Linked DNA regions of Homo sapiens: region 2 is linked to region 1. A link means that fine-mapping ties the variant in region 1 to the expression of a gene that starts in the linked region. Tissue or cell type: sun-exposed skin. Region 1 holds a variant in brackets; the other region holds the start of a gene. All regions are shown on one strand. Distances are between the middles of the regions. Region 1 overlaps LINC02874 (long intergenic non-protein coding RNA 2874). Region 2 holds the start of LINC00592 (long intergenic non-protein coding RNA 592).

What was found. PIP is the estimated chance that this variant, and not a neighbour inherited with it, causes the effect.
Region 2: it holds the start of LINC00592, and the variant in region 1 is fine-mapped to the expression of LINC00592 in sun-exposed skin (GTEx, PIP above 0.99). The same link has a PIP of 0.9 or more in unexposed skin.

What each region holds. Positions count from the first base shown.
Region 1 is chr12:52,202,042-52,206,246 of GRCh38, reverse strand. It overlaps LINC02874 (long intergenic non-protein coding RNA 2874), which reads left to right. Exons shown (of 3, transcript NR_164133.1): 3 at 68-1,424. Among named protein-coding and RNA genes, the nearest start is that of LINC00592, 6.8 kb to the left of the region's middle. The variant G/C (reference allele first, on the strand shown) is at 2,570.
Region 2 is chr12:52,208,907-52,213,111 of GRCh38, reverse strand. LINC00592 (long intergenic non-protein coding RNA 592) reads right to left here and starts at 2,182. Exons shown (of 5, transcript NR_027358.2): 1 at 2,092-2,182; 2 at 956-1,068; 3 at 85-513. It overlaps LINC02874 (long intergenic non-protein coding RNA 2874), which reads left to right. Exons shown (of 3, transcript NR_164133.1): 2 at 510-570.

The DNA.
Region 1 (4,205 bases):
TCCCCTCGGCACTTAGATCCCAAGTTACCCTGTACTCATTTGCCCTTATTTATGTATTACTTTTCAGATGTTCTCACAGAGCTACACATGCCACAGTCATCACTAGTTGCGAGAGTCTCCAGTGTTCATTAAGCCTATTTTGCTGGAAGTTTAGTCCCTGGAGGATTAGTCCCTGCCCTTAAGGAGTGCCAAAGAAGACTTTGGAATCTAAGTCACATCTCCCCTGCTGCAATTTTTTCCTCTTGATAATCAAGGAATCTCACTGATAAAACTCTCAATGAGGAGCAGCTCTCCCCATGAGCAAGTTCTTGCCTTCATTGCCAGGGAGGCCCCAGCTAAGGTTATACTGGGAAAGGAATCTCTGGGGAGTACCTGGAAGAGGTCAGCTTCTCCTCAAAGGAAGCCTCTCCAGCTGGTGTACTGCAAAGCCTTCCAAGACCAAGTTCCCTCTTCCTGGCCTCTGGAACCAGCCTGTGTGCCAGCGCTGTGTCCCCAGTAACACACATGAGTCTCTCCCTCAGAAGCCACAGAAGGATGCAGAGAGAGACCAACCCAGGATTGATTCTCAGCACTTACTAATTGTGTGGACATAACTGCTCTGGACCTCAGCTTTGCTATCTATAAAATGAGCACCCTTTTTATAGATATGAACACTTTAAGAGAGTCATAAAGATTGAAGTTGATTTGTGCTGCGCCTGGCACAGAGGTCTCCCTCAGTAAATGGCAGCCACTGCTATTGGGGTGCCCCAACACCCCTTGCCCCTGCCCACCATTAGCTTTCACTTAGGCCCACACTGAGGGTGTGGCTGTTGTGTTGGGGGAAGGAAAAAAACCATGCCTGGGTTGCAGGGCCCCCACCACCAACTGGTCTGCTTTTGTGGGAAGCATTTTCTGATGCCCTCGCCCTACCCGTGGGCTGGTTGACTAAGTGTCCAGCATCATGAGGAAAAGAGCAGGGTTCAGGGACAGCTTGGCTCAGCCCTGAAACTCATCTGGGCCTAGGTCCAGATGAGAGGCAAGCCTGGGAGGCCTTCCGTTGTACCCTTGCCTATCCTGCAGCACCCTCTAGCCTGCAGGCCGCTCCTGGGTGGCATAGCACCTTGGATGTCAGGTGTGGGCCTTCCCAGGCACATGGCATGAGGGGGCACTTCTGTGGGTTGTTGGGGGCAGGAAGGGATGTGTCTCCAGCTGGACTTGGGCTCTCGCATTTTGGGGCCCAGCCATGCCAGGACAGCACACATGGGCGCTTAGTGCGAATCTCATGATGGAGCAGAGGAGGAGCAAAGCAAAACCAGGGAGTCCCCAGGCCCCTGCTTCTGCCCCGCCCAGAGACAGTGGAGCAGGTGTCTCCAGCTTCTTAACCTCAACGCACAGTAAGAAATACATTTTACAGCAACCAATAGACACATACATTTACAAAACGATACTCTGTAATGCACTGGGCTGGTTTTCTCTCCTCACGCCCCTCTAGTGAGTCACAGATGAGTCCCGCTATAAGTAATGTAAGCAAGCCACAGTCCCTGGCTGGCAAGTGAGGGAGTGCCCCACCAGGACAGGGACACTGAGGCAGCAATGAAAACAGCCAATGCAACCACTCCTTCCTTTTTCCCCCGCTCAGACCCTCATGGGTGAGGAGAGAAGCTGCCAAGCCGAGGACTCCATGAGAAAGATGCCGGAGCTGCCCCACTCCGCAGCAGGCGCTTCCCCTGGATTCTCACTATCCTCACGACAGCCATGAGCACCAGCAATTATCTGTTCCATTTTGGAGAGGAGGCAATGCAGGTTCAGAGGCTTTAAAAAGATTTACTATGTGCTTGCTGTGTGCCGGCAACGTTTATATGGTTTATATAATGCTGAATGGTTTATATAATGCTCAGCGCTTACCTATTCCCCAGAGCAGCCCTAGGGAGCAGGTACCGCTGCATCTGCATTGGCAGAGGAGACCGCGGCTCCCCCAACCCCCGGCTCAAGGTCTCACAGCTAGTTGCAGGCCTGCATCTCTCAACCCAGAACACCTTTAAGGAGTCCCTCCTGCCCCAGGCAGAGTCCTAGGCTTCCCTGCAGATCCAGGTAAACTTCAGGTAGGAGGAGGCCTGCCTGTAAGTGGGGAACATCAATGGGAAGGAGCAGATTGAAAGCCAGAAGAGAATATGAAGAAATGGCTGTGGCTGTGGGCTCACAGAAAGGGGGCAGCCCCCTTGCCCAGCTCTCCTCCATAATCCAGAGGCTATTTTAATTTAATGATGATCATAAAAGAAATATTGACGGTGTGGCTGAATCAGGCTCTGCTGTGGCCTCCACGCAGGCAGCCTGCTCTGGACCCTGTGGTTCCCTGGCTGCTCCAGACCCCCTCGCTCCCCAAGGTCAGCTGCAGATCAGAGCTTCCTGGGCACAGAGAGCCCTGCTCAGAAGGGACATCTCCATTCGCAGAGGTGAGACGGCCTGAGGGTTTCACGGTGGAAAGGAAAGCCCTGTCTTTGGAACCTGATATGGATCTGGCTGCCAGGGTCCAGGGTCACCTGTGGGGAGGGGCAGCAGCCGCCCAGCTCTGCCAGAGACAGAGGGCAGG[G/C]CCAGACCTGGGGCTTCCCGCCCAGGATGCCATCAGCCAGTTGAAATTCCAGCCCACGCCGGCACCCTGAGGGCTGTCGGGGAGGGGTGGGATTTATGACTTCCCCACCCCCCCGCAACACCCCAAAGGGAAATGTGTTGAGCTGGTCAACATCTCTCTGGTCACAGGGCCAGTGCTCCTGAGGCTCCTAAATAATGGGGCAGGAGCCAGGTCATTAGGCAGGGGAGACTGTCATTAGTGCGGGTGATGCCACCACCGCTCAGACAATGGCAAACAGTCATTAGCGGCTGTGTCACAGGGATGAGGCAATGCTGGATGGCTGGGGCGTGGCGCTTCCCCAGCCACACACTCACACACACACGCACATGTTCACACACAGAGGAGGAAGTAGTCATGCTCAAACACTCACTCCCACAAGGACATCTAGAGACACACACATCCACACGTGGGGGCATGAGTGGGTGTGTCTGCACACTCACATGCTCACATGTCCACACACATTCACATGCAGGGTGTGAGGAGGCATGTGCTCCCACGTGTTCACACAGTCACATACAGGAGAACAAGCAGACAGCCGCATTTGCACACTCACATGTTCACACAGAGGAATGAGTGAGCACAGGGTGCAGGGACACATGTTCACACACAGTCACAACAAATTCACACACACACACAGGCATACTCGCATGCTCACGTTTCCAGATTCACACGCAGGGGCTGAGAGACACATTGCCCAGAAAGGGCCACAGTGTCTGGGACACCCCCCACCCACACACACCACAGGGGCAGGGCCCTCGGATCCTCCCCACACCAGGCACCCAGACACCCCCTACCCTGAGATAGCCACACAGAACCTCAGGGGCCCCCCGAGGAGAGACCCAAAGACACCCCCTCATCCCACCCCTCCCCCTGCATCAAATGATGCAGCAGCCAGGAAGGAAAAACCCAGTGAAGCGTGGAGGCAGCCAGGCTGCGTGGACCTTGGCAGAGGCGGTGTCAGCTGTGCCGCCGCAGTGCTCTCCACACTCCCAGCTCTGACAGCCAGCACAGACCTGCCCCCAACATGAACCCCCAAAAAATGGGCTGCTGTAGGCGTGTTTCTCTGCTCGCCTCCCTGTGGGAGAGGGACAGGAAGCGGGAGGCTGGAGTTGGAGGAGCGGGGGAGTAGAGCAACTGAAACCCAGCCCCTGGCCCTGGCTTGAATCTTCTCTCCCGTCCTCACCAGGCTTTCCCCCCGCCAAGCTATGGAGCCGCCCTTCAGAAAACACAGGCAGGGAGTGGGACAAGAGGCAGAGAAAGTGGCAGGCACAGCCACGCCAGGCCAAGAGAGCAGGCTGGAAACCAGCCCTCCACTCTGGGTTCAACATCTAGCTCCACCACTTATCAGCTGGTAGTATTAGCTTCCTGCGGCTGCTGTAACAGATTTCCAGAATTTAGGGGCTCCACGCAACACAACTCTATTTCTTCATTTAAATAAATCTTACTGGCTGGGTGTGGTGGCTCATGCCTCTAATCCCAGCACTTTGGGAGGCTGAGGTGGGAGGATCACTCGAGGTCAGCAGTTCAAGACCAGCCTGGGCAATATGGTGAAACTCCATCTCTACTAAAAATACAAAACTTAGCCAGGTGTGGTGGC
Region 2 (4,205 bases), 6.9 kb before region 1:
GCTGCCCTGTGCCTCCTCCCTTCTCCAGACCCAGGATGTCGGCATCCCTGGATTTTGAGATCCAAAAGGCAGGGCTCAACTTACCCCACATGGAAGACAGTGACTCACACAGATGAGCCTGCTAGAGCACCTTTTCCAGGAGCAGAGACCCACAAGGGTGGACGGGGGCTTGCTTTCCCCTCTCCTGGGGCTGGCAGGAACACCCCACTCTTACCCCAACTCACAGTGATCGCCGGAGGGTGGTGCACTCTGCTCCAGCACCTGCCACCTGCCTAACACGCACTTGGGGACAGCTTCCAATAGGATGCAAGTGGCAGACAAAGGTACCCCAGGAGGGCAGGTGGGGGAGGGTGAGAAGCACTGGGGAATGGGCACCCCTCATCTCCCACAGGCTCAGCGGCTCCCTCAGGACAAGGAGAAAGCTGGGAACCCTAAGACAGAACTGGAGGTTCTCGTTGCCTAAATCTCTCCTGGCTTGCTGCACATGGAACCCATTTCTTCCCATTCAGGGCTCTGCAGAGGCAGAAGATGAACAGTAAGATGCAAAGATCTGGCAACCTTCAGAGCTGGGTGAGTCCTGGGGTCCTCACCCCATTACGCCTAAGCTACAACCCCATATTCCCTGTCCTCCCAGCCCTGGGGGCCCTGGTCCCACTACGCAGGGGTGGCTCAAAAGCCCAATGAGCTGGAAGGGTCTGAGAGAGCACCCCATGTCACAGGGGAGGTGAGGCAGCCTTGGACCTGGGATCTTGTTTGCGGCTCTTTATCATGGACACACTCCTAGAACTCCCCAGTCCCTCCACCTCCTCCTGAAGTACTCCAAGAGCTGGTCAACACCGAGAGCCCACCTCAGGCTGTGGCACGGCTCTTGGTGGGGCCTGGTGGGTCATGGGCTTGCCTCTCCCATAACTCAGGGCCCAGTTGGAGACACCGTGACTGTTCACTAATCAGACACCTGAGTGTGTAGGAGAAAGGCCTTGCCCACTCTATTCTTCAGATGAGAACACTGAGGCTCGGCGAGGCGACAAGTCTTTCTGAGGGCCAGTGGAGCAGACCAGCCTGGGAGGCCTAAGGGAAGTGCTGGCAGAGCTGAAGCCGCGGTTCCCCTGCCTGGTCTTGCAGTCCAGCCCTCCACCTCACCCTTCCCCCTCCCTCAGCCCTGCCCTGGGCTCCAAACTCCGACCTGATGGAGTCCCCACACCCTCTCACCTGGGCAGGCCCACCTCAGACTGCCTGCTCTAGACCCACACACCCCATCCCCTCCTCCCTCTGCAGGAGCATGCCCCTGCCATCACTCCCTTGCTCCATGAAACCCAAAGGCAGACCCCTCGCAATCCTCCCCATTCCCATAGCACTGCAGCCCCTGCATCTGACCACATCCCTTCCTGCTTAAAACTCTTCAACAGCTCCCAGCTTCCCTTGGAACAGAAAGCTCACTCCTCATGTCAGCATTCAAGAGCCCCGCATACTTTTCTGGCTTCATCTCCAGCCACTGTCACCCCCTACCATCACCTCCACACGACCCTCTTAACACCCTGGTCTGCTTTCCAAACACACAACTGCTTGCATGTCCCTGGCTCAGCCTACAGGGCCAGCTATGTCTCACCCTTACAAAACTTCACACGGCCATTCTAGAGAGGCCAAGTGCACCCCTCAGGGCTCCCGTAGCCCCCAGGCTTCCTCCCTTCCTGGTGCGTATCCTCTGTGTGCTTGTCTGAATCCTCCTCTAAACTGTAACCTCTCTGCAGGCAGGGGCCCAGCCAACCTTGCCAAATGATTGTCCTCTGCACCCAGCACACCCGTGAACCCCTAGTAGGTGTTAAAGAAACACTGTCTAACATTAGGCTCTAATTATTTCATTGATAGTGTGGTCTGGCTCCCCCCTCCATCCGCATGGGCCAAGGAGACACTCAGCCGGGGGTGGGGAAGCTGTCAGTCAAGTTCCCCTCAGCTCCCACCTCCATGCTCCCTCTCTGGGGGACGGGCCTGCCCCCACCATGGGGTTCCGGAGCAGTGGTAGGCCCACCACAGTGCCTGAGGCCCCAGGGACTGTCCCTGGGAGAAATGGCTTAACATCTTGTCAACACCAACCTCCCCAAGCTCCTTAATCACTTCAGACACTACACAGCTGATGGGTGAGCAAGAGGACCTGAGACCTCCCCCATCCCCTCTCCACCTGCCTACAGGTCCCTGGGGCCTCTGCAGAACCACCCAGAAGCCCCAAATTGTGACATCACCAGTTCAACAGCCTTCCCCACTCCCATCACTTCCTGAAACAGCCAGAGCGAGAAGATGATGCATGTGAGCCCTGCCCTTGGGAAGCTTCCAGGTTGGGAAATGAGGAATGAGCCTGACACCCAGGGCCCAGAGAGACCCAGGACAGAGGCAGGTCAGGAGGCAGACACGCGCTGCTGGGTAATGACGACAGCACCAGTAATCACGGCTACTCCTTGTTAAGTACTTACTAAGTGCAAGACTCCAAGCTAAGCAATTAATAGACCTTTTCTTGTTTAATCCTTACCACAATTCCATAGGGTGAGTATAATCCTTATTTTATAGATTGAAAAAGGAGGCTCAGAGAGATCTAGCAATGTGTGCAGCATCACACAGCTAGTCAGTGGTAGAGCTGGAATTTCAATCCAGATCTGCCAGCTGCAAAGCCGGTGCCCTTTCTACCCCACTTCAAGCTCTAGGTAGGGGTTTGTTACTTCCCTTCCAAAAAGCCTCATGGAAGCCCCATTACCAATAACATAAGCCCCCCACAGCTGAGGCTCCCCCAGTTTGACCCCTGCCTGCCTTCTCACCACTGCTCCCAACACACCACCATCACACCTTAGATTTTAACACTGCCCTTAGATTTTAACACTGCCGTTTTTGAAGTTTACCCCTCTGAGTCTTGGCTTCTGCTATTTACTCAGGCTCAAAAGCCAGCCCCACTTTACAGATGACAAAACAGAGGACTAAGAACGTTAAGTAAGTAGCCCAAGGTCACGCAGCTAGAAAGCAATTGAGCCTGGTTAGAGCCCAGGTCATTAGAGCATCAAGTAATCAAGCATTAATTTGTGTTACAGACAATTAGGGGATGAGAATTAGCAGGACTTGTCACTAATGGTGCAGAAGAAGTTAGGGGAGAGGAATCAGGCAGGTTCCAGAGTGAAGGAGGGCCAGGATAGGCCTTGAGAAATGGGCAGGTTCTGAAAGGGGAGGGCATGAGAAAAGTACAGAGATGACAGCAAAGAGAGAGAGAGAGGAAGGGACAGGGGGTTGTCAAAATTAGGGAGAGAATGTGGAATGGTGAAGAGAGCTGTGACTAGGAGTCAGGAGACCCGGCTGTATCCCCTCAACTTCCTGTGTGATATTGGGCAAGGAAGGCCCTTCCCTCTCTGGGGGGTGCCTTGTATATCAATGAAGGATAGATGCACCTAGGTGGTCTCTGGGGTCCCACCTGGCCCTGACATCCAGGAATTTGTGTGTGTGTGTTGCTATTGGATCTTGAAACACAGAATCTGACCCCAGACCCTGACACGGGGCACAGGCTTGGACACCAAGGGCAGACAGGGCCAGCTGCCAACATGACACCTGACAGAGAGCACCCGAGGGCTGTCCTCAGCCACACACAGTCATTCATGCACCCCTTCTCCCCCTGCATCCGTGCTACTAAGCATGTGTGGACTCGCTACAGTGGATCCAATCCTGTGGAAGCTGGAACGCAGCAGGGACGAACGAGTCATATCAAGGAAAGGCGTTTATCCTCAAGGAAAGGCAAAGGGAATGGAGGTCCTTAGAGAAGGGGCAGAGAAAAATTCCTGAAAGTAAGGGTGGAGTTTTCCAGATTGGAATACATGGTCTGCCAAATTGGAGGACATTTGAGGAAAAAGAATGGTCCCCAATCAAGACAGCACTGCATCCGAACATAAAGTACCTTTCAGACCATCAGCAAAGGAAACAGTCCTCTCCGGGGGGACCTGTGCTCGCAATAACAGACACTGCTGGAGATCTCAGAGCCCGTGGAGGCAGAAGATGCCTCACTAAAGACTGTGGACACACATATCTGGGCACACACACATGATGCACACACAGGTGCTCACACACAAGCCTGAACAGAGACCCCACCGTGGGCCGTCCATCCTCCCACTTCCCGACTGAGCTGGTAAGCAGCTCTCCCTCTCCAGGAAACACGCCCCTCACGTGTTGATGACATGCAG